Homo sapiens: one gene and its partners. The protein of the gene in region 6 purifies or fractionates together with the protein of the main gene of each other region. This does not show direct contact. Each region holds a gene or a part of one and is shown on either strand. Other genes may lie near its edges.

Region 1 (2,878 bases), on a different chromosome or scaffold from region 6:
GTGCTCAGAATCCTCCAAGAAGAGGGAAACAGGGAGCAAATAAACAGACCAAGAAGCAGCAGCAGAGACAACCAGAGGCCAGCATAGGGTCCATGGTATCCAGGGTAGACGCTGAAGAGGTAAGAACGTCCTGTTGCCTGAATCGGGCTGGGTACTCACTGGTCACCTGAGACTTGCTATTGATAGAGAATAAAATGCCTGCTGCGTACTGTTTTCTGCCTTGGCACTGACTAAGAGAAGGTACCAAACAGGAAGCCAAGGGGCTGGGGTGTGGCTTTAGTGGACAGTGACTTGGCAGCTAGTCTCTTCCTACCCTTCCAGTCCATCGTTGCTTTTGGGTTTCTAGGCATTGGTGGATCTGCAGCTACACACAGAAGCCCAGGCTCAAATTGTGCAGAGCTGGAAAGAGCTGGCCGACTTCACATGCGCATTCACAAAGGCTGTGGCTGAGGCGCCCTTCAAGTGAGTAACCCCAGCAAGTCCAGCCTCCATGCTGGGCCTGTCCTTTACCATGGCTCTTGCAGTCAAAGCAAATGTCCCTTTCCCCTCATCTCTGCAGTCAGCCCATTGTCTCTCAAGCTTGAGGCAGAAGGAGCTGACCTCACACTGGGGATTCTTGGGAAGAGTCCTCAAGCCTAGCGCCTTTTCAAATATTCTCCTTTCGCCTATATGTAAGTATGTGTTCTGCAGGCTGATATCATAGGCCAGGTTACCATAGGCCAAGTTACCAGGATTAATTACAGGTCAGATCACAATGTAATAAGCACTAGGAAAGCAAATTTTTGGCCTACTCAGTTCAAGAAGTGTTCACTGTCAGAATTTAAAATAAGTAAATGACCTCAGAGACAATCCAGTCCAAGTCCCTTATTTTATACTTGAGGGGACTGAGGCCTGAAGAGATTGACTTGTCTAAGCTCCTAGCAGTTAGAAGAACCAGAAATAGATTGCAGATTGCCAGATATCCAAAGAATCTGGTATCTTTTCTTCTACTATAATGGACTAGATGTAGTTTTTAAATGAATCAGCAACTGGCCCTATACCTGGCAACAAAGTGAGCACTCAAATTGTCAAAGGCACAAAAAGGCCAGATGTAACATGGCGCCCACCTCTTCCAAGGTCAGTGGGGGGGTTTTCAGTTGCCACTTGAGGGGAACAGGTGTAGAAGAGTAATGAGCAACTTACAGCTCTCCAACCACGCTGTTGCAGGAAGCTCCGAGATGAAACTACCTTCTCCTTCTGTCTGGAGAGTGACTGGGCTGGAGGGGTGAAGGTGGACCTTGCTGGCAGGGGACTCGCACTAGTCTGGAGGAGACAGATTCAGCAGCTGAACCGAGTCAGCCTGGAAATGGCCAGTGCAGTTGTGAATGCCTATCCCTCCCCACAGCTCCTGGTACAGGTATGCTGCTCCAGGGCTCAGGGGTCACTGCCCATTGCCTGCGGGCTCAGTGGGCCCCCAGATTTCCATGGACAACTGTTGAGGGCCCACAAAGGCCTCACAGGTCAGCAGTGCAGGTCTACTAAGATCAGTGTTGCTAATGCTGACCCAGGGAGGGAGGACAGGTTCTCATGCCCCAAGCCAAGCGTAGCACCCTCCATGCTCATGGAGAAGGGATCACCATGGATGGTACCATATTAAGAGGTCATCTACCACTTCCAGGCTTATCAGCAGTGTTTTTCGGATAAAGAACGCCAGAATTTGCTCGCAGACATACAGGTGCGCCGTGGGGAAGGTGTGACATCCACTTCTCGCCGCATTGGACCAGAACTATCCAGGCGTATCTACCTTCAGATGACCACTTTACAGCCACATCTCTCTTTAGATAGTGCTGACTGATTCTAGCCCTCAGGGATGAGGATGAAAAGCTGGAAACTTCCACTTCCCCAACCTCAGAGCCTGACTGTAATGAAGAGACTGGCAGCACCTCCTGGAACACAAGCCTAGGTGAGGCCCAGTCTTTCTTGGGTCTTATTATTTGTGAAGGTCTCTCTGCCTGTCGGCTGGGGCAGAGACTGAAATACTGCCACCTACCTTTGGCATTTAATGTTCCTCTCCTGGCAAAAATTCACTGCCACAGACAAACCACCCCCACTCCTACCCAGCCAGCCCTCAAAACACAAAGGAACAAAGACAGTCCACTCAGACACTTATTTAATAACTGTAGAAATCCAAAAGAATTAGCATCAAATCTTGAAGTCGTGAGTGAAGCTGCGGGTTGGCTTGACTGGGCTCAGCCACTGAGCTGCCTCAACCGGCCAAGGAACGGGATTATGATGACTATGCGGACTTCTATATTGTCTTCATCTCATTGTGTGTATTATGTATTTAGTTTCAATAAAGCATTTGTACCAATGGCTCTGGAGCTTGGAGGAAGACTAAAGGAATGTGTAGTGATTCTGAGTAAGATGTAGACCTACGCAGCAGAGCTATGGGGGAGAAGATTAACAAAGTCCTTTCTTCCAATATCAGGATAGTCATGAGTTGCAGTCCCATCCAAAAGGTCATTAGGGCTAAAAGGCCCTCTGTGTCTCTGAACTATGAGATTCTTGCTCCCTCCGGGGGAGCCAAGGAGCTTGCAACTGGGAGTTTGCAGTGAATGAGCACCATGACACAGTCATTTCTGATCCCTCTATCCAGCTGTTGTGAAAAGATGAAGCAAAGGAGGCAAGAAAATGCTTAATTTAGCAGACAAGAGAATGGACAGTGTGATCCTTGTTTGTGCTAGCCATTGGGTGATGCACCACTTTTCAGCTCCATGATGCTACTTGTTTCCCTTCATATCCTGTTTCCATTTATGCCCTTCAGTTATGGTCTAGAATCAAACAATTCTAAACCTCAGTGTCTTATGAAGCTGACACTTCAAAACCTGCAGAAGCAGGT
Region 2 (4,182 bases), on a different chromosome or scaffold from region 6:
ATTTAATTTTGGTGCACGTAATTTACCTTGGCATCAGCAATTTATGTAGACCAGTCAGAAGTATCTTAGGAGAGGTTAATATCTACATGGAGGAATCAAACCATCTTATTGTTCCTTCCACCCACCTTTTATGTGTCTCCTTAATATTGTTGACCTTAAAAATTGTTTTAATGGCTTTGAGCTTTTTGAAAGGAGGGACCAGGTGTTATTTTACCATAAGGAATGTAACACAATGGGCTAATATGTGTGATTCATCTTAATAACATGAGCTGTGGTGGTCTAACGATAAATCTTACAGGAATCTGCATGAACATTTTTTTTACATGGCCTTAGTCTCTCTTCTTGTTCATTTAAAGTAGGTCAAATCAAGCCAGTTTTCTTTGTTGTTGTTAACATATCATAGCTTTATTCAGTAACGGAGTAGAATTTTTAATACAGAGAAAATGAAGTACCTGAGAATGATAAATAAGTTTACCACCCAGTTAACCACTGTTACTACTTCATAAAAAAAGTACTACATGTCAGTAAATTCAAGAAGAAATGCACAATATGAAAAATGAAAACCTTCCCCTCTTTACCTTCCGTAATAATTCCTCTCCCAGAATGATTTTTAATGCCTCTAAAAGGTAAAAGTATCTTCTCTGGAGCCTGACTCCTGAGTTTGAGTTCCATTTCTATTCCTTACTTCCTGTGACATTTAATTTTTGGCAAGATGCTTTTTCATTGGTAAAATAGGGATAAGAATATCTATAATGAGGCCGGGCAAGGTGGCTCACGCCTGTAATCCCAGCACTTGGGGAGGCCGAGGCGGGTAGGTCACGAGGTCAGGCGTTCAAGACCATCCTGGCTAACACGGTGAAACCCCGTCTCTACTAAAAATACAAAAGAATTAGCTGGGCGTGGTAGCGGGCGCCTGTAGTCCCAGCTACTTGGGAGGCTGAGGCAGTAGAGTGGCATGAACCTGGGAGGCGGAGCTTGCAGTGAGCCGAGATAGCGCCACGCACTCCAGCCTGGGCAACAGTGCAAGACTCTGTCTAAAAAAAAAAAAAATCTATAATGCTGTTGTGTAGATTAAGTGTGTTTATATGTGAAAAGCATCTAAAGCAGTCCTTAGCATATTTAAGTGTTACGTATCTGCTGGCTAGTATACCAGTGGGTATATATGCTTGAAAATTTTATACAGTCATTTACACACTGGTCTGTATTCAACTTCTGTGTACCCATAAAATTTTTTTTAAGTGATATAGTAGGTGCGTATATTTATGGGGTACATGAGATATTTTGATACATGCATACAATGCAAAATAATCACAGCAGGGTAGATAGGATATCCATTGTCTTCAAGCATTTATCATTTGTTATAAACATTCTAGTTATGCTCTTTTAGTTGGTATAAAATGTGCAATAAATTATTGTTGACTATAATCATCCTATTGTGCTATCAAATACTAGATCCTATTCACTCTATGTTTTTGTACTAATTAAGCATCCCCGCCCCTCCCCTGCCACCACACACCCCACAGCTCTTCCCAGCCTCTCGTAACCATCTCTATTTTCTACCTCCATGAGTTCAGTTGTTTCAATTTTTAGCTTATCATGGAGCTCTTTTGAATATAAATCTACCTTATTCTTTTATATCAGTGTGTATAGTCTATTAATTTTTTAGACAGATCCTCTATTGGCATTTAGTTTGTTTTCAGTTTTTTACTCTTCCAAACAGTGTTACAATGGAGATATTTGCATAGATATATTCGCGTACTTGTGGGAATAATTTCTAAAAGATAAGTCAAAAGGTATATGTGTCTTTAATTTTGGTATATCTTGCTGTAATGCCTTAGTAGCTAGCTGTTTTCCCCACTATAATCCTGTCTGAAATTGTTATCCCTTCCTGTGGCTTTCAGTTTGGTACCTACCAAATTTTTTGCCAAACTGCATTTAGAAAGGAAATGCTAATCCTCACTGGTAGATCACAGGATTACTAGTTCACAAAGGCAGGTGAGATTGCAGCCTTCCCTCAAAGGGAACCACATTTGACCTGCAATTTAGCCTTAGCAAGGAGTTACATAACAATGATGCTATTGCCTCTGGTTGTCAAGCCTTGACCTGTCTCTGAAGTTGTTTTGTAATCAAGGTTTTAATGGCAAATATAGGGAAAGAACAATTATGAATTTTGAAAACGTTAGTCTGGGTTTATGAGAAACTCCCTTTTATGCTAAAATGAGAGCACAGCTAAAATGGCTGTGTCATCTGACCAGAGGCCTAGAAATCTAGAGTTGCTCTAGTAACTGTAAAGGAGTCATTTCTTCCTGCCTCTATGTTTATGAAACATAGAGTTTTAAGATCTAAGGACTTTTTGAGGCTTATTTGGTGTCTTGAATAATTTTATATTTCTTCTGGCTATATGTTGGCATATATGTATCCCATTTTGCAAGTAAATATTTACATTTCAGCATAAATGTGTCATTACTGATTTTAAACTGATTTTGAAAGATATTTTGTATGTGCAATTATGGTATAACGAAATCCAGTAGGAAGTCATAAGTTCTAGAATTGTGATAATAGTCTACTGTTAAACCAATCCTGTTTTTTTATGTTTTCAGTGGTTAACATTTAGGCATATTGGATATGAGGCATTTTGATGAGCAAATATGTATCTCATGCCCCTGCCTCATAGACAGTATACTCTAGACAATGTGTGGTCATATTACTCACTAATTAATACGTGAAGTTAATTGCTGCCTCCTTTTCTTTCTTTTTTTTTTTTTTGAGACGGAGTCTCGCTCTGTCGCCCAGGCTGGAGTGCAGTGGCGGGATCTCGGCTCACTGCAAGCTCCGCCTCCCGGGTTCACGCCATTCTCCTGCCTCAGCCTCCCAAGTAGCTGGGACTACAGGCGCCCGCCACTACGCCCGGCTAATTTTTTGTATTTTTAGTAGAGACGGGGTTTCAGCGTTTTAGCCGGGATGGTCTCGATCTCCTGACCTCGTGATCCGCCCGCCTCGGCCTCACAAAGTGCTGGGATTACAGGCGTGAGCCACCGCGCCCGGCCCTCCTTTTCTTGACTCAGATTCACACTCCACAGTCTTTCCAGGAGCTAGATGGATGGTATTATCCAGCCATTGTCCTACAAGCCTAAAGCCAGGTGGAAAACCACCATCCTCACAGCAGGTGTCAAGTATTTTGGTTTAGAAACTCTTTCCAGATGATGTTCATCCTCATAGTAAAGAAAGTAATTATGACAAGGAGTGATGTTGATAACATAAAAAAAATAACAAAAAATCTGCTAAGCCATCTTTACTGTTTTTACAGGATAGACCAAAGCCCAGCAGAATTACTAATATAAGCATTCAAACTGCTTACAGAGGGTTTCAAGCATGATAATTTGTGAAGTCAACATGTATAGTAAACAAAACATATTTTAAGTGTGTTCATTATGGAGCTAATTGATAAGATGTCATTAAAAATAATAATGCTCATGGCATTTGTGTTAGGAACTATCAGCAGCAGTCCATCTTTAAATTTAAAAAGAACAGAGGCTATTCTCAAACTGAGAGCTTACCTTTTTGTTTTATTCTGTTTCTGTTGGAGCTGTGCTCTGTACTTTATACATGTTATTTCAATAATTCTTGTCCACAGAGTTTTCTAGGCAGCAACTCTCTGTGCACAATTTCAGCTAGAAACGCCATGACCTTCCCAGTAAATTTGAGACAGAAGCAAATTTGTAAGGAATCCTAACTGGGCAAAACTTGATATGCATAAATGCCTAATATGTATCTACATAGATATATCTATAGATAAATCTTCAACATTTACTCTGACTTTTATAGGATGATACAAGTTGTGGATTAAATTTTTTTTTTTTTTTTTTGAGACGGAGTCTCGCTTTGTCACCCAGCCTGGAGTGCAGTGGCGCGACCTTGGCTCACTGCAAGCTCCACCTCCCGGGTTCACGCCATTCTCCTGCCTCAGCTTCCCGAATAGCTGGGACTACAGGCGCCCGCCACTATGCCCGGCTAATTTTTTGTATTTTCAGTACAGACAGGGTTTCACCGCGTTAGCCAGGATGGTCTCGATCTCCTGACCTCGTGATCCTCCCGCCTTGGCCTCCCAAAGTGCTGGGATTACAGGCGTGAGCCATAGTGCCCGGCCGTGAATTAAATTTAACATAAACATAAGGATAACAT
Region 3 (4,182 bases), on a different chromosome or scaffold from region 6:
CAATGAAGAATTTCAGCTGTATCAAGTATCTAGGTAAGAATAAAGACTCTGCAGATGGACTGCTTGAGTTGCAATCTGTTATACAAGCCTGAGTCTGCCTCTGTAAGATGGGAATAAGGATGGTCCCTACATACAAAAAAGACAGTGCATCACCTAGAGCCTAGAACTCAGTAAGCACTTAATAGTCACTATTTCTACCAGCATTATCACCATCATCTACTCTCCACTGGAAAAATAATGGAGCAGGAGGCCGGGCGAGGTGGCTCAAGCCTGTAATCCTAGCACTTTGGGAGGCTGAGGTGGGCAGACTGCCTGAGCTCAGGAGTTCGAGACCAGCCTGGGCAACAACAGTGAAACCCTGTCTCTACTAAAAAATACAAAAAATTAGCCGGGCATGGTGGCGTGCGCCTGTAGTCCCAGCTACTTGGGAGGTTGAGGCAGGAGAATCACTTGAACCCAGGAAGCAGAGGTTGCAGTGAGCCGAGATCGTGCCACTGCACTCCAGCCTGGGCAACAGAACAAGGCTCCATCTCCAAGAAAAAAAGACAAATAATGGAGCAGGAAGGGGCTGGCCAGACACATCATCGGTGCCAAGGACACCAGAACCATTTGTATATAAGCAGAAGGAAATGGCCTGGGCCAAAGCAGGCAGCTAGGAGGCTGTAACGTGGGCTCCACCTGGAAGGTTCTAGTGAAGCAAGGAAGGTCTCACCTGACAGGTCCAAAGTTGAAGGCAATGAAGAGAAGGAAGACCATGATGCAGACCACCTTCCTGTTTCCAGACCCTAACTTGAGCTCGCTGTTCTAAGGTACAAAGAAGGAGACAAGAAAAAGGGGAATCATTCCAAGGAGGCTGTATTCCTGTTGGTCTCCCAGGGACAGACTGGTCTTACTTCAGCCAGCAGGGCCTCCAGCCGCCGCCGGAGGGCAGCATTCTCTCGGCGGAGCTGCTGGTTGTCAGCCAGTACTGCTTGCAGCCGAGCCTCCAGTCCCTGCAGATACTCTTTCTTCTTTCTCCGGGACTGGCAGGCTGACTCCCGGTTCTTGATCATTCGCTGCTGCCGCTTCAGCAGCTTTGCCTAGGCACCCGGAAGGTCAAAAAAGAATGACAGATGAGTTGGCAGAAGGAGACTATGCTCTCAAACCCCAAGGAATGATTTACCCAAAGCTCACATGGCCATTCCCCTGCCTTCCTGACCCACCTACATAGCCAGAGAGGTTTTTCCTCTCTACTCAAACACGCTAGGGAAGGGGCCCTTCTTTCAAACATTCCCTGCTACTGCTCCTCAGAGGTGGGAAAGGTTAGAGTGTGGGAAGAACTTTCTCCATGCTGGTGGAAACTCTTTCCTTCGTAACTCTTTCTTCCTGTCAGCCCACATTTGTAGGGTTCAAAGTTTAACCTTGTTATACTGCTTATACAGTTTACCTGATTTTCCCCTAGGAGGCAGCCTCCCTCCCCAACTATGGCCATGACCGTAGTCGTATAGTACAGTACGACTTCCTTGCCTTTAATTTATGGAGACCAACCCCATTTCTCCATCTGCAGTGACAGCAAACCTAAAGGACCCTAAAACTACCTGGAGTTGATATTCATATAGAAACAGGAGTCCATTCTGACCCTCAGAATGATCTAATGGGTCCGTTTCCTCACTTTTTTCTCCTAGGTATCGACTCCCTCCTCATCCCACAGTTCTCTCTATGGCAAGACTTCCCTCTTCCCTTCCCATCACTCGCCCTACTTCTCTCCTCCCCAACACTTACATCCACTTCAGGCGGGCAGGAGTTTCCAGGCATAGGAGCGGGAACGATGCTCTTCCTCTCAGGCCGTGGTAGAGAGGGAGCCGGCCCTTCAGGCTGGACTCGAATAGCACCCTGGATGAGGACAACTGGGGACACTGGGGCAAGTGAGCAGAGGTCAGAGGGCTGTGCGCTGGGTGGGGTCCTTGTGTCCACACCCACACAAGAGCACCCAAGGATTGGGCAGCCTCAATGGCTGCAAGCTCTCTGACAGGGTCAATGCAGCCCGCCTCCTTTTCTCCTTTTTTTCTTTTTTGAGATGCAGTCTTGCTCTGTCGACCAGGCTGGAGTGCAGTGGTGCGATCTCGGCTCACTGCAAGCTCCGCCTCCCGGGTTCACGCCATTCTCCTGCCTCAGCCTCCCCAGCAGCTGGAACTACAGACGCACGCCACCACGCCTGGCTAATTTTTTTGTATTTTTAGTAGAGACGGGGTTTCACTGTGTTAGTCAGGATGGTCTCGATCTCCTGACCTTGTGATCCGCCTGCCTTGGCCTGCCAAAGTGCTGGGATTACAGGCGTGAGCCACTGTGCCTGGCCTTTTTTTTTTAATTAATTAATTAATTTTTATTTTTATTTTTTGGTTTTTCTTTTTTCTTTTTTTTTTTTTTGAGACAAAGTCTCGCTTTGTCGCCCAGGCTGGAGTGCAGTGGCATGATCTCGGCTCACTGCAACCTCCGCCTCCTGGGTTCAAGTGATTCTCCTGCCTCAGCCTCCCGAGGAGCTGGGATTACAGGCGCCTGCCACCACTCCACGCTAATTTTTGTATTTTTAGTAGAGACAAGGTTTCACCACGTTGGCCAGGCTGGTCTTAAACTTCTGACCTCAGGTGATTCGCCCGCCTCAGCCTCCCAAAGTGCTGGGATTACCGGCGTGAGCCACCATGCCCGGCCCTTTTCTCCTTCTTCAGTACCTGGGGGTGGCTGGACGAGGGACTGCAGAAGGACTGTGGTGCTGGGAGGCACAGCTCTGGATGGCATTGGGACAGTGGTTAGCACTACAGGTTTGGGCTGCAGTGGCGGCTTCCGGGTGGGCAGGGCTTTGCCTGAAGGAAGGTGAGAGAAAAGAACAAGAAATGTCAGGACCAAAGGCCTCTCACTAGGGATTCCAAGTGTCAGGAGACTCCATTACCTGAGGAGCCATCAAGGGATGGGCCCATGCTGATCTGGACAGCTCCAAGTGAGGGGGCTGGGACATCCCACAGGAGGCATCCTGAAGGGGACAGGGACTCTGTCTTCACTTCCAGGACCTCCTCTCCTATAAAAGCCTATGTGGGGCATTCCAGAGATACATTAGTCAGGAAGAGTGTCGAGGAGAAGGAGCTGAAGAAGGGAAAGCTCTCATACCTCTAGGTCAGGAGGAACTCACTGGAAAACCTGGAGGAAGGAAGGAAGGTGGTGCTCACCTGGCTGGAGGAGTCGGCTGAGAGCAGGGAGGCCTCAGAGTTGACGGAAGAACATGGAGAGACAGGTTCTATCTTGGTCTGGACATCTGTGGGAGGCAGGATGAGGCAAAAGCTGGATATCATGTAAACACTGAAGGGTTAAGAGGGTTAAGATGGGAGGCTGGGCATGGTGGCTCACGCCTGTAATCTCAGCACTTTGGGAGGCCAAGGCGGGCAGATCACCTGAGGTCAGGAGTTCAAGACCAGCCTGACCAACATGGAGAAACCCCGTCTCTACTAAAAATACAAAATTAGTCGGGCATGGTGGCGCATCCCTGTGTCCCAGATACTCAGGAGGCTGAGGCAGGAGAATCGCTTGAACCTGGGAGGCAAAGGTTGCAGTGAGCCAAGATCGCGCCATTGCACTCCAGCCTGGGCAAGAAGAGCAAAACTCCATCTCAAAAAAATAAAAAAGAGGGTTAAGATGGGGAAATGGGTCCTTTCTCTTTGAACCTGAAAATAAAACTCTTCTGGCCCTAGATTACAGGCCATCCAGGAGGGGCAGTCACAGAGCTGCTCACCTGCTGGCTCTCCGCCCCGCTTTTCGCCTAGTGCTTCCCTTTCTCCTTTAGTGGCTCCTCTGATTTTTCTCATCCCTGCTCCATGTTCCTCAAAGCTGTCTTTGCCCTTCTGCGTTTCCCTCTTTCTTGTTCACAGAACTTGTCTATTCACATAGAATAGGCCTGAGCAGGGGAAGTGGCAGGGGGGTCTCCAGCATTCACATGGCCCAAATTCCTATCTTGCTGGATTTCCACCTTATCCCTGCCCAATGCATCTCCATGCTGACAACCGCCAAGTGTGCATCTCCCCCTGGCTGCTCACCTGCACCAGATTCTGACTTCCAAGCTGCCTGCTGGTCCCTTCCATTCTCATGCCTCACCAGTCACCCAAATCTAACTGGCCATAAATGAGGCTTCCTGATTGCCCCGTCACACAAGTTTTC
Region 4 (4,182 bases), on a different chromosome or scaffold from region 6:
TATTATGAAAGAAAAAAAAAAAACTACGCATGGATTACAAAACATTTTTCACCAAAATAAACTTGTACTTATAACATGTCTGAACAGGATATAGTTTGAGGAACTAAGAAGGGTCAGACATCAGTTTGAAAAGAGCACCTATCAGAGCAACATGAATTCTGCTAAAGTTGAAGCAAGAACAAATATCGAATTTATGGTGAAGCTTGGTGGAAGAATAGTGAAATCATTGATGCTTTATGAAAAGTTTATGGAGACAATGTCCCCAAAGAAATCAACAGTTTACAAATGGATCACTCATTTTAAGAAGGGACAAGACAACGTCAAAGCCCATTGCAGCAGATCAATTTGCGAGGAAAAATTTAATCTTGTTTATGCCCTAAATGAAGAAGACCGATGATTAATAGCAGAAACAATAGCCAACATCATCGATATCTCAGTTGGTTCAGCTTATTCAATTCCGACTGAAAAATTGAAGTTTAACAAACTTCCTACTGATGAGTGTCAAAACCATTGCACTCAGATTAGCTGCAGACAAGAACAGAGCTTTCAGTGGAAATTGTAAACAAGTGGGATCAAGATCCTGAAGCATGTCTTTGAAGAATGGGAACAGGAGGTGAAACATGGCTTTAGCAGTGCAATTCTGAAGACAAAACACAGTCAAAGCAATGGCTGCCAGGAAGTGAAAAGGGCCCAGTCCAAGCAAAAAGAGACCAGTTAAGAGGAAGGGCTATGGCAGTTTTTTGGGATGCTCAAGACATTTTGCTGGTTGACATTCTGGAGGGCTAAAGAATAATGTCTGCTTATTATGAGCTTGTTTTGAGAAAGTTGGCCAAAGATTGAGCAGGAAAACGCCTAGGAAAGCATCACCAGAGTTCTCCACCGCCACAGTGCTCCTGCTCATTCCTCTCATCAAACAGGGACAATTTTTTAAGAGTTTTGATGAGGAATCATTAGGCATCCACCTTAAAGTCCTTATTTGGGCCCTTCTGATTTCTTTTTGTTGCCTAATCTTAAAAAACATCTTTAAAGGGCACCCACATTTCTTTGGTTAATAGTATAAAAAAGACTGCATTGACATGGTTAAGTTCCCAGGACCCTCAGTTGTTCAGAGATGACTGGTATCATTACCTGCAAAAGTGTCTTGACCTTGATGGAGCTTATGTTGATAAATAAAGTTTATATTTTTTATTCTTTATCTTTTTATTCCATTTTTCCATGAACTTATTGAAGCCCCTTCGTAGATCACCTATTGAGGTTATATCTGGGGCATGCTGGGGTGTGCACTATATCGTATTTGTAGTCAGAATACTTGATGCTGTAGCGCTCAGCATTTATTGAATGAAATTCTGCTATAATATTTGAGCGAATATTTGTTTTTCGACAATGCATTTTCTTTGGATTTCTTACAGAAAAATGTCCATTCCACAAGGTTTGTGACATATTTCTGTGAGCAGGTTCTCCCTAACCTCGGTACCTTGACTACCCCAGTGGAAGGTCTTGATATACAGTTGGAGGTAAGCAAAAATTTCAGCTTTAGCACTGATAAGGCATTCTTATATTTTAACAAAAATGTAAACCACTAACTTAGATCCGATTTCTAAGGGAGCAGTTTAAATGTCTGGTAATGGCCAGCCAGTAATCTCCCTAGACCAGAATTAATTGCATTAGGACTGCTTCATGGATTCAATTAAAGTTTGCTGCAATGGGAAAGCCTTACCTGTAGTTTTATTATAGTCAGTCTCTACTTTTGTAGCCTTAATATTTTTAAATAAGGTGTTTAATTCATTCATTTCTATCCATAACTGACAGAGCCAATTTTAAACTGGATTAACACAAAATATCCTTTATTCCTTCTTCAATAGAATTCACTACCCCTCCCAACTTTGTATCTCAACTGTAATGTATGTAAACATTTTTTCACAGCATCTGTAATACTTTACATTTGTTTATAATCTCTCCCTACATTTAATCTGATTCACCTCTGTATCCCCAGAATCTGGCACAAAACTTGATTTTGAATCAAGCACCCAATAGTGATTATTGAATTGGACTGAAATATGGAAATGCGTGTGCCATTTCCCTCATGGGTCTTTGGGATAGAGAAGAATCTCACTGTGCACTGACAAGGTAGTTTGCTTCAAATGTGCTGGGCTAGGCCCATCAGACTGGGATTGGGAAATGCAGGAATGAACCTTGAGAATAGTGGTCATTACCAATATTTTGAGTAAGTATCCAGAGACTAAATTTAACAGGAAATGAGGCCCACCTTAACCATGAGTAATTAGTTCTTAGCTGTTGAGAGTTCTTACTAAGTGTGTCTTTATAGTTAATATATTTATCATTTTTGCCTTGCAATTAGCACAATCATTAACCTGTAGCAGAAAGTGTCGTATGTATTATTTTCCATACTTCTTCTCACAGATATATTGGAAATCATGGGATCTGGGTTTTAGGGTCTGCCCTGCCACTTACACCCTGTGACTTTGTCGAGTCACATAATCTCTGACCTTTACTTTCCTTCACAGTAAAATGTTGGGCTGCATCTATCTCTAAGGTTTTCTTCCATTTCAAATGTTATGATTCTGTGAAAACATAATTGAAAATAAAGTCTTAAATCGTTATCTAGAATTACTCTCATTTCATAACCCTTGCTTATTCAAAAAAACAGTAATAGTGAATTGTGTGTTTTAGGTATTGAAATTGTTGGCGGAGATGAGTTCATTTTGTGGTGACATGGAAAAACTAGAAACAAATTTAAGGAAACTATTTGATAAGTTATTGGTAAGAACTTTTTCCTTTCCTTATGGGATAGTCAGTATATAGCTCAAAGTCTAATTTATTATTAATTTCTAGATTACAAGAACCAGTTTTTGAAATTTCAATTAAACAATAATCCTAATAAGTATTGTTAGCTTCCTAGGCCACATGTTGTTGTCTACTTTGTTTTAATCTTGGTGTTTCTTATAATTAGGGAGAAAATAGGCCATCTGATAAAATCATTATCAGCATCACTGAGTGATTTTCTTATTTGATGTATTTGTATAACTAACACAGTGATAAGCATTAGGTCCTTAGCATGAATTGAGTCATCAACATCTGGCACTCGTCCAGATGTAACTTACTGGGTTGTTATAGCACTGATACTGAATGCCATTGGCAGTACTTCACTTGTAATGAGTCAGTACTTAAACAATATGGACTTACGTTCAGAAAATATTTTTGTAGTAAGCATAGTATAGTTGTTAAGAGCATCAGCATTTGATGTCAAATCTAGATTGAATTCTGACTCTTTAGTTTATTAACTTTGTTACCATGGGAAGGTTACCCTAACTCTCAGAGCATCAGTGCCTTTATCTGTAAGTGCCTAATAAATGATAGCTACATTAATCTTCATTATTAATAATAGCAGCTGTAACAGCAGCTGTAACAGGTTAATATGGAGCGTTGACAGGCTAGAGCATTGATCCAGTAAGTAAAAAAGAAATCCAAATGTCTGGTTTTGGTAGTTTTTAATGCTCCATGCCTTAAAAACATGCACTGTAATTCCCTGAATATCTGTTTATAATTTGAATATGTAGAACAGATTGCAAAATCTGTATATTTTTCTCTCTTAGGAATACATGCCCCTCCCTCCAGAAGAGGCAGAAAATGGAGAGAATGCTGGTAATGAAGAACCCAAGCTACAGTTCAGTTATGTGGAATGTTTGTTGTACAGTTTTCACCAGTTGGGCCGAAAACTTCCAGATTTCTTAACAGCCAAACTGAATGCAGAAAAGCTCAAAGATTTCAAAATCAGGTGATATATGATTGAGGTGGCTCAATCCTTGGCAAAGGTGGTAGCTATCCTGAAGTTCCTTGGGTTTTGCTTTTGTTCTATGAGAGCTCCCCATCCTGCCTTACCCCAGTGATACAGATTGGAGGGTTCAGAAAATGGGCATGTTTGTAAACATATGACAGAAATGAGCCAGGCATGGTGGCTCACGTCTGTAATCCCAGCACTTTGGGAGGCCAAGGCAGGAGGGTTGCTTGACACCAGGAGTTTGAGACCAGCTGGGCAACATAGTAAGATCCTGTCTCTATAAAAAATAACTTTAAAAAAATTAGCGGAGTGTGGTAACACACCAGTAGTCCCAGCTACTTGCAACACTGAGATGGGAGGCTCACTTGAGCCCAGGAGCTCGA
Region 5 (4,182 bases), on a different chromosome or scaffold from region 6:
TAGATTGGTGCCTCTTATAGCACTGTTGAAACTACCTTTGAAATTTAGTTCACAATCATTGACCTCCCTCTTCTTTTTCCCATGCTACACGCATACTTACCTATACTTAGTTTCTGTTGATCATTTATTCAAAAATAAATGCCTGCTATGTACAGATAAAATACAAAGATGAAAAGGCTCCCGTTCCTCATAAAATTTCTATTTGAATTTTCAGGTGAATGTTTGAATTTTGGAATAAAAACTCTTGAGGAAATTAAGTCAAAGAAAATGAAGGAAAAATCTAAGAAGCAAGGTGGTAAGTCATCACGTTTTGGCATGGATAGTTGTATGTTGCTAGGGAAGAATACTAAGGACGCTTCTAGAAGCAACAGCCAAAATGAGCAAATAGATTTTCATTTCCATGGCCTGTTTGAAGTAAAACACAGACTTATTTAAATTGTGGTTGCTTTTAATTCACTGCAGCTGTGTTTCAGTCCCTAACTTTTCAGAGCTGGGTACAATAAAGAATCTGAAAGAACTTGTATATCTTGAAAAATATAGCTCTGAAGAACATCATATAAGAACTATATTAATTCTGTAAGTTCTTATAGTGGTTAAAAAGAAATTATATTAAGAGAGGAAAGGCTGGGCGTGGTGGCTCACGCCTGTAATCCCAGCACTTTGGGAGGCCGAGGAGGGCGAATCATGAGGTTGGGAGATCCAGACCATCCTGGCCAACATGGTGAAACCCCGTCTCTACTAAAACAAAAAATTAGCCAGGCGGGGTGGCATGCACCTGTAGTCCCAGCTACTCGGGAGGCTGAGGCATGAGAATTGCTTGAACCCAGGAGGCAGAGGTTGCAGTGAGCTGAGATCGCACCATTGTATTCCAGCCTGGCGACAGATCAAGACTCTGTCTCAAAAAAGAAAAAAAAGGAAAAACGTCATTTTCTAGTAGAAGAGTTCTTCCTCAAGAGCTGCTAGGATTTTCTTCTGGAGCTTACGTCAGCCTGATTGCTCTGTATTTCCAACCCCCAATTTTTTTTTTTTTTTTTTTTTTTTTTTTTTTTTTTTTTGAGACAGAGTTTTGCTTTTGTTGCCAGGCTGGAGTGCAATGGCGCAATCTTTGCTCACCACAACCTCCACCTCCCAGTTCAAGCTATTCTGCTGCCTCAGCCTCCTGAGTAGCTGGGATTACAGGCATGCGCCACCACGCCTGGGTAATTTTGTATTTTTGGTAAAGACAGGGTTTCTCCATGTTGGTTGGGCTGGTCTCGAACTCCCAACCTCAGGTAATCCACTGCGCCCAGCCCCCAGCCTTAAAATTTATAGTGTGAAGTGTAGTATATATAGAGAGAAATGGTTCTAAAAACCTTCTTTTAAGGCTTGCTTTATAGCAACCTTGGAGTTGTGTTTTCAGATGATTAAATAGAATAGGTTGGATTGATACACCTGATGGCTAGTGTACCTCTGAGGTTAATTTTAGAATAATACTAGCTTTATTGGTAAATATTAGCCTTATTGGTAAATAAAAGTAGTTTGGGTGCCTAAGTCACTCAAAATAATTTTATATTTTGTTTTCACATCATGCCCAAGGCTCCCCTCACCACTACTCCATTTGACTGTAGGCAAACAGATACAGAAAGGCTGATTGGCTTATAGTCATAATATCAGTCTGTATTGGACTTAACTGGTTACAAAAACAAATTTTTTGACTTGGGATAGCATTATTTTCCATAAATTATTTGCTGTTCTTTGACTTGCCTTATTCAGAGGGTTCTTCAGGAGTTTCCAGTCTTTTACTCCACCCTGAGCCCGTTCCAGGTCCTGAAAAAGAAAATGTCAGGACTGTGGTGAGGACAGTAACTCTCTCCACCAAACAAGGTAAGGTATAGATAGGTCTTAGAGTTGTCAAGCCTCTACTTTTATATAATTGGGAATGCAAAATCCTTGGGTATCTTTTACCTTTGATGAATTTTCAGGAATTTGTTAGTATGCTGATGAGATAATCTAAAGATGAAAAGTTGGTACATTCAACTCTAATATTTAAAAGGTTGAAATTCTTTGTCAAGCAGCCCTCACATATATTTTTCCATTTACTGTTTATATCCACTCAATACATTTATTGGCTTCCCATGTGACTAAAGAATAATAGGTATATATAATAAAGTTTTTTATTTATTTCTTTGAGACAGAGTTGCACTCCTGTTGCCTAGGCTGGAGTGCAATGGCATGATCTCAGCTCACCGCAGCCTCCGTCTTCTGGGTTCAAGCAATTTTCGTGTCTCGGCCTCCCAAGTAGTTGGGATTATAGGCATGTGCCACCAAGCCCGGCTGATTTTTTTGTATTTTTAGTAGAGACGGGGTTTCTCCATGTTGGTCTGGCTGGTCTCAAACTCCCGACCTCAGGTGATCCGCCCGCCTTGGCCTCCCGAAGTGCTGGGATTACAGGTGTGAGCCACCGTTCTTGGCCATTAATTTTTTTTTTTTTTAGATGGAGTCTTGCTCTGTCGCCCAGGCTAAAGTGCAATGGTGCGATCTCCACTCACTGCAACCTCCGCCTCCCAGGTTCAAGTGATTCTCCTGCTTCAGCCTCCCCAGTAGCTGGGATTATAGGCACCCGCCACCACGCCTGGCTAATTTTTGTATTTTTGGTAGAAACGGGGTTTCACCATGTTGGCCACACTGGTCTTGAACTGCTGGCCTCAAATCATCTGCCTGCCTCAGCCTCCCAAATTGCTGGGATTATAGGTGTTAGCCACCACACCCGGCCTGTAACGAAGTATTTTCACTTAATAATTTTAAGCCTAATAAGGAATTATAGATATAGATATATTTAAATGTTTGTGCAATTCAAACAACAAAGAATTAGAAGAAAGAGAGCTCACTTCTTCCTGAGGTGATCAGAGATAGTTATATTGGACAGTTAACATCGGAGTAGAGTACAGTTTCATTCAACATATCAAAGTGCATAAGCAAAAGGATAGTTTCAGCTTTATAACCAATTGGTTAAGAATACAATCTGTCTTATACTCGACTGCTATTAATAATTAGTACTATTCTAGGCTGTGCGCAGTGGCTTACATGTATAATCCCAGCACTTTGGGAGGCTGAGGCGGGCGGATCGCTTGAGGCCAGGAGTTCAAGACCAGCCTGGCCAACATGGTGAAACCCTGTCTCTACTAAAAATACAAAAATTAGGCTGGGTGTGGTGGCTCACGCCTGTAATCCCGGCACTTTGGGAGGCCGAGGCGGGCAGATCACAAGGTCAGAAATTCGAGACCAGCCCGACCAACGCGGTGAAACCTTGTCTCTACTAAAAATACAAAATTTAGCTGGGCATGGTGGTGCACGCCTGTAATCCCAGCTACTCAGGCTGAGGCAGGAGAATCGCTTGAACCCGGGAGGTGGAGGTTGCAGTGAGCCGAGATCGGGCCACTGCACTCTAGCCTGGGCGACAGAGTGAGACTCTGTCTCAAAAAAAAAAAAAAAAAAAACACCAGGTGTGGTAGTGTGCGCAGTAGTCCCAGCTACTTGGGAGGCTGAGACAGGAGAATTGCTTGAACCCAGGAGGTGGAAGTTGCAATGAGCCAAGATGGCACCACTGCACTCCAGCCTGAGTGACAGAGCAAGAGTCTATTATTATTATCAAAATAATAATAATAATTAGTACTATGCTATTGCTTCTGTTTAGGCTGTATGTTTGGCTGTTTATTATTAATAGGTTTGGGTTTTTTTTTTTTTTTTTTGATATAATGGCCTTCCTTAAGACTGAGACCTGATTTTCAAGAGACTTTCTGGGTGGATTTACACTAATATCAGAACATACTTTGTACCCATTAGTAGTTACTGAATACAGAAAAATTGACTAAGGATAGAGAAATTCTGCTTTTGCCATTTCAGGAGAAGAACCCTTGGTTAGATTGAGTCTTACTGAGAGACTGGGGAAACGAAAATTTTCAGCAGGTAAGATAAGTTTTGTGTATATCTTTTCTTTTCTACTTGTTTGTGCATTAACATGATAGCTTCTCCAAACTCTTTTTATACAGATCTTTGTTATTGGTGCCCCTGTATTGGCTGAAAGCACTTATAAATTCCTCATGTTTTCATGAGTGCATTATACCTTTTATTGAAGATACAGAGATTTAAAGTGTTACAATTGAACTAGATTATGACCATGACCAGCGTTTTGGAAGGAACTAG
Region 6 (4,182 bases):
CAGGGAGCAACAGGCTGTACCATATAGCCTAGGTGTGCAGCAGGCTGTACCGTCTGTGTATGGAAGTACATTCTAGCACGTTCAGACAATGACAAAATCGCCTAACAACACATTTCTGAGAATGTATGCCTGTCGTCAAGCGGCAATTCTTATACCAACTTCAAGTAGGTAGAGATTGGTTACAAGACTATAACAGAGGTAACTTTTAATTCTTTCTTCAAAAACATTCTCTGCAAATGAGGACATTCTATGTGATACACAGACTCAAAGAGGCTCTCATAAAACTTGTCAACTTACCCCACCTGACAGCTTAATCACCCTGACCTTGGAGCTGATGTGGGGCCCGTCTCCACCACCACTGTTTGTCCTGTGCGTGACAGTCCTTTTCACGCCAGGCTTTGTGTCCTGGGGCCGGCCCTGGATGGACGCCACTCGAGGAGTCTGGGGGACAGCTGGCTCCTCCACATCTGCAGGTTTGATCGGGAGCACTTTATGCAGCGGCTGAGTCTGACTTTGAGGAACTGTTCTGGTCTGTCTCAAATGTTTCAGTGCTTTCATCTGTTGTCCTTGATACTGCATGTTGGCACTGGATGGTACAAAATTGGATGTTTTGGGCTGAACGTTTGAAATACTGACATCCTGGTTTTTAACAAGAAGTCTGTTCTTCACATTTTGTCTGACCTGTGCACCTGGAAAGGGCAACAGTGGGTTACCGTTGGTGGGTGATGGTGACAGTGCCTGCTCTTCCTGCTCTGCTGGGGGTGGGGGAGCGTACAGCTGCTGCTGTTGCTGCGCGAGTCTCTCCAGCAGCTCCTTCTTCCTGGCACCAGCCTGCTGCTGCCGCCGTAACTCCTTCTGTTTCAGGATTTCTTCTCTTAGGCGTTTCTGTTCTTCTATCTTTAAGCGATATAACCTTGTTTCCTCATCTTCATCAGGAAACTAAAATGGAAAACATACACGGTTTACTTTGCTATACAGGCAAGGTGCCCATAGTCTATTTCAACAAATTACAAGAACACATTTACCACAAGTCCTTTAATTCAGTATCTGAAAGAAGTCACTCAAAATCTGTTTGAAGACTTTAAGTATAACTCCTTCCTCTGGGGAGGGGGAAAAAAACCACACAGCTAAAGCTAATTTGGAAAATCTTATCAGAATATTAAAAATGAAATAATGTAAATTTCCACTCATTTACAAGTTTGAAACCAATTAAACTATTCATTTAAGATATCAAAATATGTTTCAAACAGGAATGGCAGCAGTAGGGAGGCCTGCTGTCACACAGGTTTTATCTGGCTCTTCTCTGACAAACCAACAAAAGGTGGGGTGTAAATGACCTGAAAGGCTCTGATTAGAACTATTGATTTTTCGTGCAGAATTTTCAGCCTGATCTCAAACTCATTTGTCACAGAATAATTGGTTATAATGAACAGCACAAGTCAATCTCTCTGACCTTGAACTCATGCACTCTCCTCAGAATCAAAATGTTGCCGATTGCAGTATTGGAATATTAATGGTATATAAGGAACGCCTTTAATATTCCAAGTTCCAAACCATTCTTCAAGTCGATACAAAAAAATCTTTGAAAAACTCCAGTAACTTTCAATAAAAAGCATCCAATAGGGAAAATGTATAAAAAGTTAAGCATTTTTAAAGAATTGTAATAATATTCTTTAAAAATCATCCATATCCACAGACTCCGTGTAAAATAATGTAACAGGATTTAATCTATCTAGAATTCAGCTATTTCACCATCTTACTTTCCCTAAATAAACCTTAAGAATTAGGAACTTAAGACAAAAGCACAGCTGAGGAGTCGGCTGGTGCCCTGGAGCTTGAGTGCCCGGTGCCAGCCCTCACTCAGGGATTACTTGTCGTCCTGGAAGCAATTCCGACCACCTCTGTTCTCTAATATCACATCTAGGGCAGATTTCAAACTGCAAAAATGAAGGTGGGTGAGAGGCTGTTTACAAGGGTAGGCATACAGAGCAAGACATGGCGTCCAGGGGGATAGTGGGCACAAGGGACATGGGCATCGGGGAAGCAGACGGCTGGGGACATATTCACAGGACCCAAGGGGCCACTGCCTCAAAACACAGGAATAATTACTAGTCATCGGAATTTCCCATGCAGTCAAGGAAGAGTTAAAGCATGTTCAGAACAGCAGCTGAAATACTTGAAAAGACCTCCAAATAAGCAGATTCACCCTTTATTATATCATCATCAAGAGGGGTGAACATACGAAAATAAGTCACATTTAGCTAAGCAAAACAAATAGAAGATCTTTCTTCTAAAAAGTAAAAAAATATATATAATCCTGGTCCCCTTTATATAGAGAGAGAAAATTAAAAGAAAATAAATCAAGACATTCCATTTATACTACGGTGACCTACAGGTTCCATTTCACTCAAGGCATCTTTTTGAAATAACTCCATGGAAGAATCCTTTAGAAGTTCGCCTAAATCAACTATCATGGAAGGAAGTGATCGCCAGATGTGCCAGCAGGATGCCTGAAAGGCAACTTCCCCTATTAGGTAGCCCTGTTATTATGAATGTGTGACTTCATTTTTCTGAACCAAATCAGTTACACATACTGAGTTAGGAGCTGGCTATATACACTAGAAGTATGATAAAACTTTTACCAAAGACTTCTTTCTAAACTATTCCGATCCAGTTTGTAAATCTACATTATTTTTTCACATATTGATTTTAAAACCAAAAGTCACTCGTGTTCTAATAAGAGTTCATTGTATGTTAATATTTCAACTTTGTACTTCCAATTTGGTAAACAATACATTACAACTGCTACAATAATATATCAGAAGAAAATCTAACTGAAAAAAATGAACTGATTAAAAGGTAAAACCAGTGTTGACTGGTTTTTATGAAACTAAGAAAGCATGACTTGCCTAAATTCTTCTCTAAAGCCATTCTTCATGACATTGCTATTGGACAAGTTAACTCGCTGCACTGCTTCAGAGCACTCCACATGCATTTCACTAAGGCTGACACGCCCTCCAGGTGCCAGCCTTCTGCACAGGCCGCCCTGGCCGACCCTCCTTTACCAGATGAGGAGACTGAGGCTTGTGGGAGAAGACGGCCTCAACTAAAGCCAGGTAAAGACTGAGCTGCATTGATTGTTCACACTCACTACATTCTGTGCCTACTGAAAAATTAGGAACAACAGCAACAACATATATCATCATACTTCAACACAAAGCAAACCCCCAGAAATCTTAAAAGACCAACAAGAAAATTGGTCCTATCTTCTAGAGGTTAATAGTGTAAATCAAGAAAAGTCACAGAAACCTACGGGATTCACCAGGTGTCAGCACATGACACCCCACAGGCTGAGTCCGGTCCACCACCTGGTTTTATAAAGTAAAGTTTTACCGGAACGCAGTCACATCTATTCATGGAAGAACTATATTTAAATTGCCTTTGTGCTAAAATGGCGGAGAAGGGTAATTATGACAGTCTGGACTATAAAGTCTAAAATATTTATAAAATATTTGGGCCCTTTACAGAAAAAGTTTGTTAAGCCCCGGTATATATCAATTCTGTATAACAGAACAGTAACTGTACAAATATATAAACTCTAATCTTGTAAACTAGTGAGAATACAAGTGTTTTTTTAATAAACATGGCTGTTAGGTTAAAAAAAAAAAAAGACCCAGGTGAAAAAAGTGGGAAGATTTTGTGAATAACTTAGTGAGAGTGAACTAAGACATCCAAGTTGATTCTAAGGCTTCTTGTTTGAGACCAACATTTGTTAATAAGAGCAGTGTCCTACCTCTGTTTCTGTTTTTGCCTCTTCTTTAGGTTGAGCCACAGGGCTAGCTGGCTTGACTTTCACTTCCGTCTTTCCCTGTGAGCTTCTGGAACCCGCCACGGCCCGCGAGGGTGGTGACGCGCTGACGATAGGTTTCACTTGTGCTGAGGGCGTGGCAGAGCAGCGGCTGCTGCTCATTTCTATCACGTGTGACGGCGCTATGGGTAATTCACGCAAATTGCTGTTCCTTGGCGCAGTGGGCTGCATTTGCTGCATGGGCCGCTTGCTTACATTCTGAGAAGTTGTATTCTTTTCACAAAAAGAAAGAGATTCTAATTGTAAGTGGAAACTTGGCAGAAGGAACATTAAAAGGCACATTATTAAATAAAAACACAATAAATCATTCTAAT
Region 7 (4,182 bases), on a different chromosome or scaffold from region 6:
TCTATCTCTGGACCCTCTTTCACATTGCTTACCTTATGCTGCTGGACACCTCCATTAACTCATTTTTCTGGATCATTACCATATTTGGAGCTGTGTTTTGTCTTGTTTAGATACTGTTCTTCATGCAGGTGTCTGTGCCACACTGTTTTAATTGCTTTTGCTTTATAATATCTTATAGGGCTGGTCTTTTCTTCATTCTTCTTAATCAGAGCATTCCTAGTATTTTCCCATGTTTGTTCTTCTAGCTAAAGCTTCGGATCATTTTGGCAAATTCCAAAAAATGTCTTGTTGGACAGCTTTTGGTTGTGATTGCATTGGATTTATAATTTAATCTAGAGGACTAATGACAAAACAACTTTCAGCCATTGTGGCTAACATTTTATCATGTCCTGGAACGTCTTGGACATAGTCTAATGCTCCACCTCATGTACGCCCATCTGAATGACACAATGCCCAGGCTTTGGCTTACTTTGGCTCCCTTTGTGCAGGTGACATCTGAGTGCATAGCACCTACAACTTGCCAGCCCTGAAACAGCTGTCATAAGAATCTCACTTGTACTCACAACAGTTCTTCAGCTTAGATCATTGTCCTGTGTTACCTAATCAGGCTCAGAAAGATGAATTAGTGACCACAAAGTTAAACAACTAGTACATGGTGGCTGAGATTTAAGCCAGATCTTTGTGACTCCAAAGCTTATTTCCCTTTCACTCACTTGTGTTATTTCCCAACCCCTTTGTAATTAAAACCCTTCTGACTGGATACAGTTACTTCATTTACCAAAAGTCAAGGGGGTTTATTTTATTGCCTGAAGTTATGCATTTTGTTCATCTTAAATATAGTCTTTAGAAGTCTCACATGACCCTATTAATCACATTTCTATTCTGAAGTCACGATACACGGTGGTTCCTCTGCTTCCCAGACACTTGGCTATTTCTTTAAATTGCCAAGCCCATTGGGAGGAAACTTTAATTTCCTTAGAATTCCTCTATGTTTAGAGGTGGCTCATGCCTGTAATCCCAGCACTTTGGGAGGCTGAGGTGGGCAGATTGCTTGAGGTTAGGAGTTTGAGACCAGGCTGGCCAACATGGTGAAACCCCATCTCTACCAAAAAATACAAAAGTTAGCTGGGCATGGTGGCATGCACCTGTAATCCCAGCTACTCGGGAGGCTGAAGTAGGAGAATCGCTTGAACCCAGGAGGCGGAGGTTGCAGTGAGCTGTTATCATGCCACTGCACTCCAGCCTGGGTGACAGAGTGAGACCCTGTCTCCAAAAAAAAAAAGGAATTCTTCTGTGTTCAAAGTTTAAAACGGGCTACTATTCTAAAACTTGGTGATTTACAACAACCATTTTATTTTGCTTGTAATTTGTGGAGTCAGGAATTAGGGAAGGGCAGTTCTCATTTGGGGTCTCTCATGCAGGGTCAGCAAGATGGTAGCTGGGGCTGGAATCCTCTAAAGCCTTCTTCCTCGAATGTCTGGCAGCTGGGCTGCCTGACTCAAATGGCTGGGTGATGGAACTGCTAGAGCAAGCTGGCACCTCTTTCCACTTTCTTAGCAGCCTTTTCATGTGTGCTGCTGTGAGCTTCCTGAGAGCGTGGTGGCCTCAGAGTAGTTGGCTTCTTCCCTGTCAGTTCAAGGCTCCAAGAGCGAGTGTTTCCAGAGACCAAGGTGGAAGCTGCAAGGCCTATTATGACCTAACCTTGGAAGTCACATCGTGTCCCTTCCTCTGTCCTCTGTTGGTCAGAGCAGTCACAGAGCCTGCCCGAATTCAAAGAGAGAGAGCAGATACACCTCCGCCTCTCAGTGGAGGATTGCCAAAGAATTTGTGCCTGTCTTTTAAGTTGTTACAAGAAGATTTTTCTCTCCGTTAATTTATGAATTCCATGCAATCACAAAGGACTAGTAGAATTTTCTTCTTTAAATTCATGATAAGTCAGAAAAAAATGAGAACAACGACATGAGAGAATCTGGTGTATAATAAAGTCTGGGGCAAAGAGAGATTATTTAATAAGAGGTGTTGGGTTGGCCAGGTTAGAGTTAAACTTGAATCCTACCTTGCTTCTTATTTTAAAGTAAGTTCTGAGTGGATCACAGTTTGGAATGTAAAAAGCGAAACCATTAAGTTCTAGAAGAACACATGGATTAACTATCTTGCAGTGGGGAAGGTATTCTTATGTGAAGGGAAAAAAATGTTACAGAAGTCGTTAAAGGAAAAGTTAGAGAAGTTTGATTTCAAAAGATTAAAAACCCTTATTAAAGATGTTCAGCTTTACCCACAACTAAGCAGCTAAGGCAGTGAGATAGTGTTTTATTCCATATTGGCATACATGAAAATTTAAGACCCAAAGTTGGTACAGTTGTAGGAAAATAGGCTCTGTCAATAACTATTCAGCTTTTTTGGAAAGCATTTTGGCAGTAACAATCAGATTTTATTTCTTTTTTTGTTTTGTTTTGTTTAAGAGATGGGGTCTCCCTATGTTGCCCAGGCTGGTCTCAAACTCCTGGGCTCAAGTGACCTTCCCACCTTGGCCTCCCAAAGTGCTGGGATTATAAGCATGAGCCACTGCACCTGGCCAGTCAGGTTTTAAAATGCATGTATCTTTGGATACAGCAGTCCCTTGCACAAGGATGTTCATCATGGCATCACTTATTTACAAACTGGAAACAATGAAAAATACCTCTTGATAGGAAATTGGTAAAATAAATTATGCTACATCCAACTTAGTGAATACCCTGCACCCACTGAAAACAGTGAGGTGGAACAGATGAACTTATGTAATGAGCGCCCAGACATCTGACTGTTTTGTTTTTAGTGACTGTCTTTGGAGAGAAGGACTAGATCTGAATGAGGAAGATATATACACACATGCACTTTTTTGAACCCACAGATGCAGAATATATTGTATGGATGCACATAACTTTTTTCCAACATTTTATTATGAAAATGTTCAAAATATAGGAAAGTTGAAAGATTTGTACATTGAACACCCATAGACCTACCATCTAAATTCTACAATTAGTATTATTACATTGCCTTATCACTATTTAGCCATCTGTTGGTCTGTATTATTGTGTTTGATGCACTTAAAAGTAAATTGCAAACGTCTTTACATTTCACCCCATGTCAGCATTATATCATTAGAGTTCAGTAGTTGTTGGGTTTTTTTTTCCCCCTTAAAGTAGATAATTTTTTAATCTGTCAAGGGAAAAGTTTCAGGAAACCTTTTCTTTGCTTGAAAGAGCTCAGTATAGGAGAGCGCAGTACAGCATGATAGAACTAGATGAGATCAGGATCTGGAGTCCCATGAACGAACGCCCGCCTATTTGAATCCTGGGTCTGCCCCTTAATACTGGCGGTACCTGGCCCAAGTTCCTTTACCCTTCTGAGCCAGCATGTTTCATCCATGAAAAGGGCTAGGATTGTTGTGAGGATTTAAGAAGACATAAAGTAACCAGCACAGAGTAGGTGTTCAGCAAATTGGAGATCACTTCTCAAACTACTGCGTGGCATGTGGGTGGCCCATAAGACGTGACTGAAACCTCTGAAATGGTCTTTCCCTTCAGAGCACTCTGCTATTTGGTCCTGAAGCAGTACACAGAAGCAGTGAAGGACTGCACAGAAGCCCTCAAGCTGGATGGAAAGAACGTGAAGGCATTCTACAGACGGGCTCAAGCCCACAAAGCACTCAAGGTAAAAAAAAATCCTGGCCAAAAGGTCCCAACATAGCTACAGAGATTTATGCCAGTGTCACCATTTACAGGGTGTAGCCAAGCTGAGACAATATCTGCAGCTTTTCCTTCTCATCCTGGGCCCAGGATAACTCAGAGCAGGCCTGTGGGCTGGGGTTTGAAAACACTTTGCTGCCTCAGCAGCTATCCCCACCCCAGTCCGGGAACCTTCCCCCACACTCCTGTCTTTTCTTCTATTAGGACTATAAATCCAGCTTTGCAGACATCAGCAACCTCCTACAGATTGAGCCTAGGAATGGTCCTGCACAGAAGTTGCGGCAGGAAGTGAAGCAGAACCTACACTAAAAACCCAACAGGGCAACTGGAACCCCTGCCTGACCTTACCCAGAGAAGCCATGGGCCACCTGCTCTGTGCCCGCTCCTGAAACCCAGCATGCCCCAAGTGAGCTCTGAAGCCCCCTCCTCAATCCCTTGATGGCCTCCCACCCTG

The links.
Region 1: the proteins of RBM33 (region 6) and EME1 purify together in Homo sapiens (affinity purification with mass spectrometry; 3 studies listed by BioGRID and IntAct, with this or other methods). This does not show direct contact.
Region 2: the proteins of RBM33 (region 6) and THOC7 purify together in Homo sapiens (affinity purification with mass spectrometry; 2 studies listed by BioGRID and IntAct, with this or other methods). This does not show direct contact.
Region 3: the proteins of RBM33 (region 6) and ATF6B purify together in Homo sapiens (affinity purification with mass spectrometry, with the first as the bait; one large-scale study listed by BioGRID). This does not show direct contact.
Region 4: the proteins of RBM33 (region 6) and API5 purify together in Homo sapiens (affinity purification with mass spectrometry; one large-scale study listed by BioGRID and IntAct). This does not show direct contact.
Region 5: the proteins of RBM33 (region 6) and ZC3H11A purify together in Homo sapiens (affinity purification with mass spectrometry; one large-scale study listed by BioGRID and IntAct). This does not show direct contact.
Region 7: the proteins of RBM33 (region 6) and TOMM34 fractionate together in Homo sapiens (co-fractionation; one large-scale study listed by BioGRID). This does not show direct contact.

Annotation. Positions count from the first base shown.
Region 1 is NC_000017.11:50,379,106-50,381,983, forward strand, and holds the end of EME1 (structure-specific endonuclease subunit EME1), read left to right. Parts: coding exon of another isoform or gene 1-1; coding exon 2-119; intron 120-346; coding exon 347-462; intron 463-559; coding exon of another isoform or gene 560-584; exon of another isoform or gene 585-1,206; coding exon 1,207-1,396; intron 1,397-1,657; coding exon 1,658-1,834; 3' UTR 1,835-2,378; downstream 2,379-2,878. UniProt on the Homo sapiens protein: Non-catalytic subunit of the structure-specific, heterodimeric DNA endonuclease MUS81-EME1 which is involved in the maintenance of genome stability. In the complex, EME1 is required for DNA cleavage, participating in DNA recognition and bending.
Region 2 is NC_000003.12:63,853,592-63,857,773, reverse strand, and holds part of THOC7 (THO complex subunit 7), read left to right. Parts: intron 1-4,182. UniProt on the Homo sapiens protein: Component of the THO subcomplex of the TREX complex which is thought to couple mRNA transcription, processing and nuclear export, and which specifically associates with spliced mRNA and not with unspliced pre-mRNA.
Region 3 is NC_000006.12:32,118,063-32,122,244, forward strand, and holds part of ATF6B (cyclic AMP-dependent transcription factor ATF-6 beta), read right to left. Parts: intron 3,287-4,182; coding exon 3,201-3,286; intron 3,063-3,200; coding exon 2,927-3,062; intron 2,841-2,926; coding exon 2,709-2,840; intron 1,896-2,708; coding exon 1,762-1,895; intron 1,080-1,761; coding exon 894-1,079; intron 805-893; coding exon 713-804; intron 1-712.
Region 4 is NC_000011.10:43,325,098-43,329,279, forward strand, and holds part of API5 (apoptosis inhibitor 5), read left to right. Parts: intron 1-1,409; coding exon 1,410-1,514; intron 1,515-2,691; coding exon 2,692-2,781; intron 2,782-3,614; coding exon 3,615-3,796; intron 3,797-4,182. UniProt on the Homo sapiens protein: Antiapoptotic factor that may have a role in protein assembly. Negatively regulates ACIN1. By binding to ACIN1, it suppresses ACIN1 cleavage from CASP3 and ACIN1-mediated DNA fragmentation. Also known to efficiently suppress E2F1-induced apoptosis.
Region 5 is NC_000001.11:203,829,909-203,834,090, forward strand, and holds part of ZC3H11A (zinc finger CCCH domain-containing protein 11A), read left to right. Parts: intron 1-214; coding exon 215-295; intron 296-1,752; coding exon 1,753-1,863; intron 1,864-3,882; coding exon 3,883-3,945; intron 3,946-4,182. UniProt on the Homo sapiens protein: Through its association with TREX complex components, may participate in the export and post-transcriptional coordination of selected mRNA transcripts, including those required to maintain the metabolic processes in embryonic cells.
Region 6 is NC_000007.14:155,741,718-155,745,899, reverse strand, and holds part of RBM33 (RNA-binding protein 33), read right to left. Parts: intron 4,082-4,182; coding exon 3,794-4,081; intron 940-3,793; coding exon 298-939; intron 1-297. UniProt on the Homo sapiens protein: RNA reader protein, which recognizes and binds specific RNAs, thereby regulating RNA metabolic processes, such as mRNA export, mRNA stability and/or translation.
Region 7 is NC_000020.11:44,942,964-44,947,145, reverse strand, and holds part of TOMM34 (mitochondrial import receptor subunit TOM34), read left to right. Parts: intron 1-3,566; coding exon 3,567-3,693; exon of another isoform or gene 3,694-3,694; intron 3,695-3,932; coding exon 3,933-4,037; 3' UTR 4,038-4,182. UniProt on the Homo sapiens protein: Plays a role in the import of cytosolically synthesized preproteins into mitochondria. Binds the mature portion of precursor proteins. Interacts with cellular components, and possesses weak ATPase activity.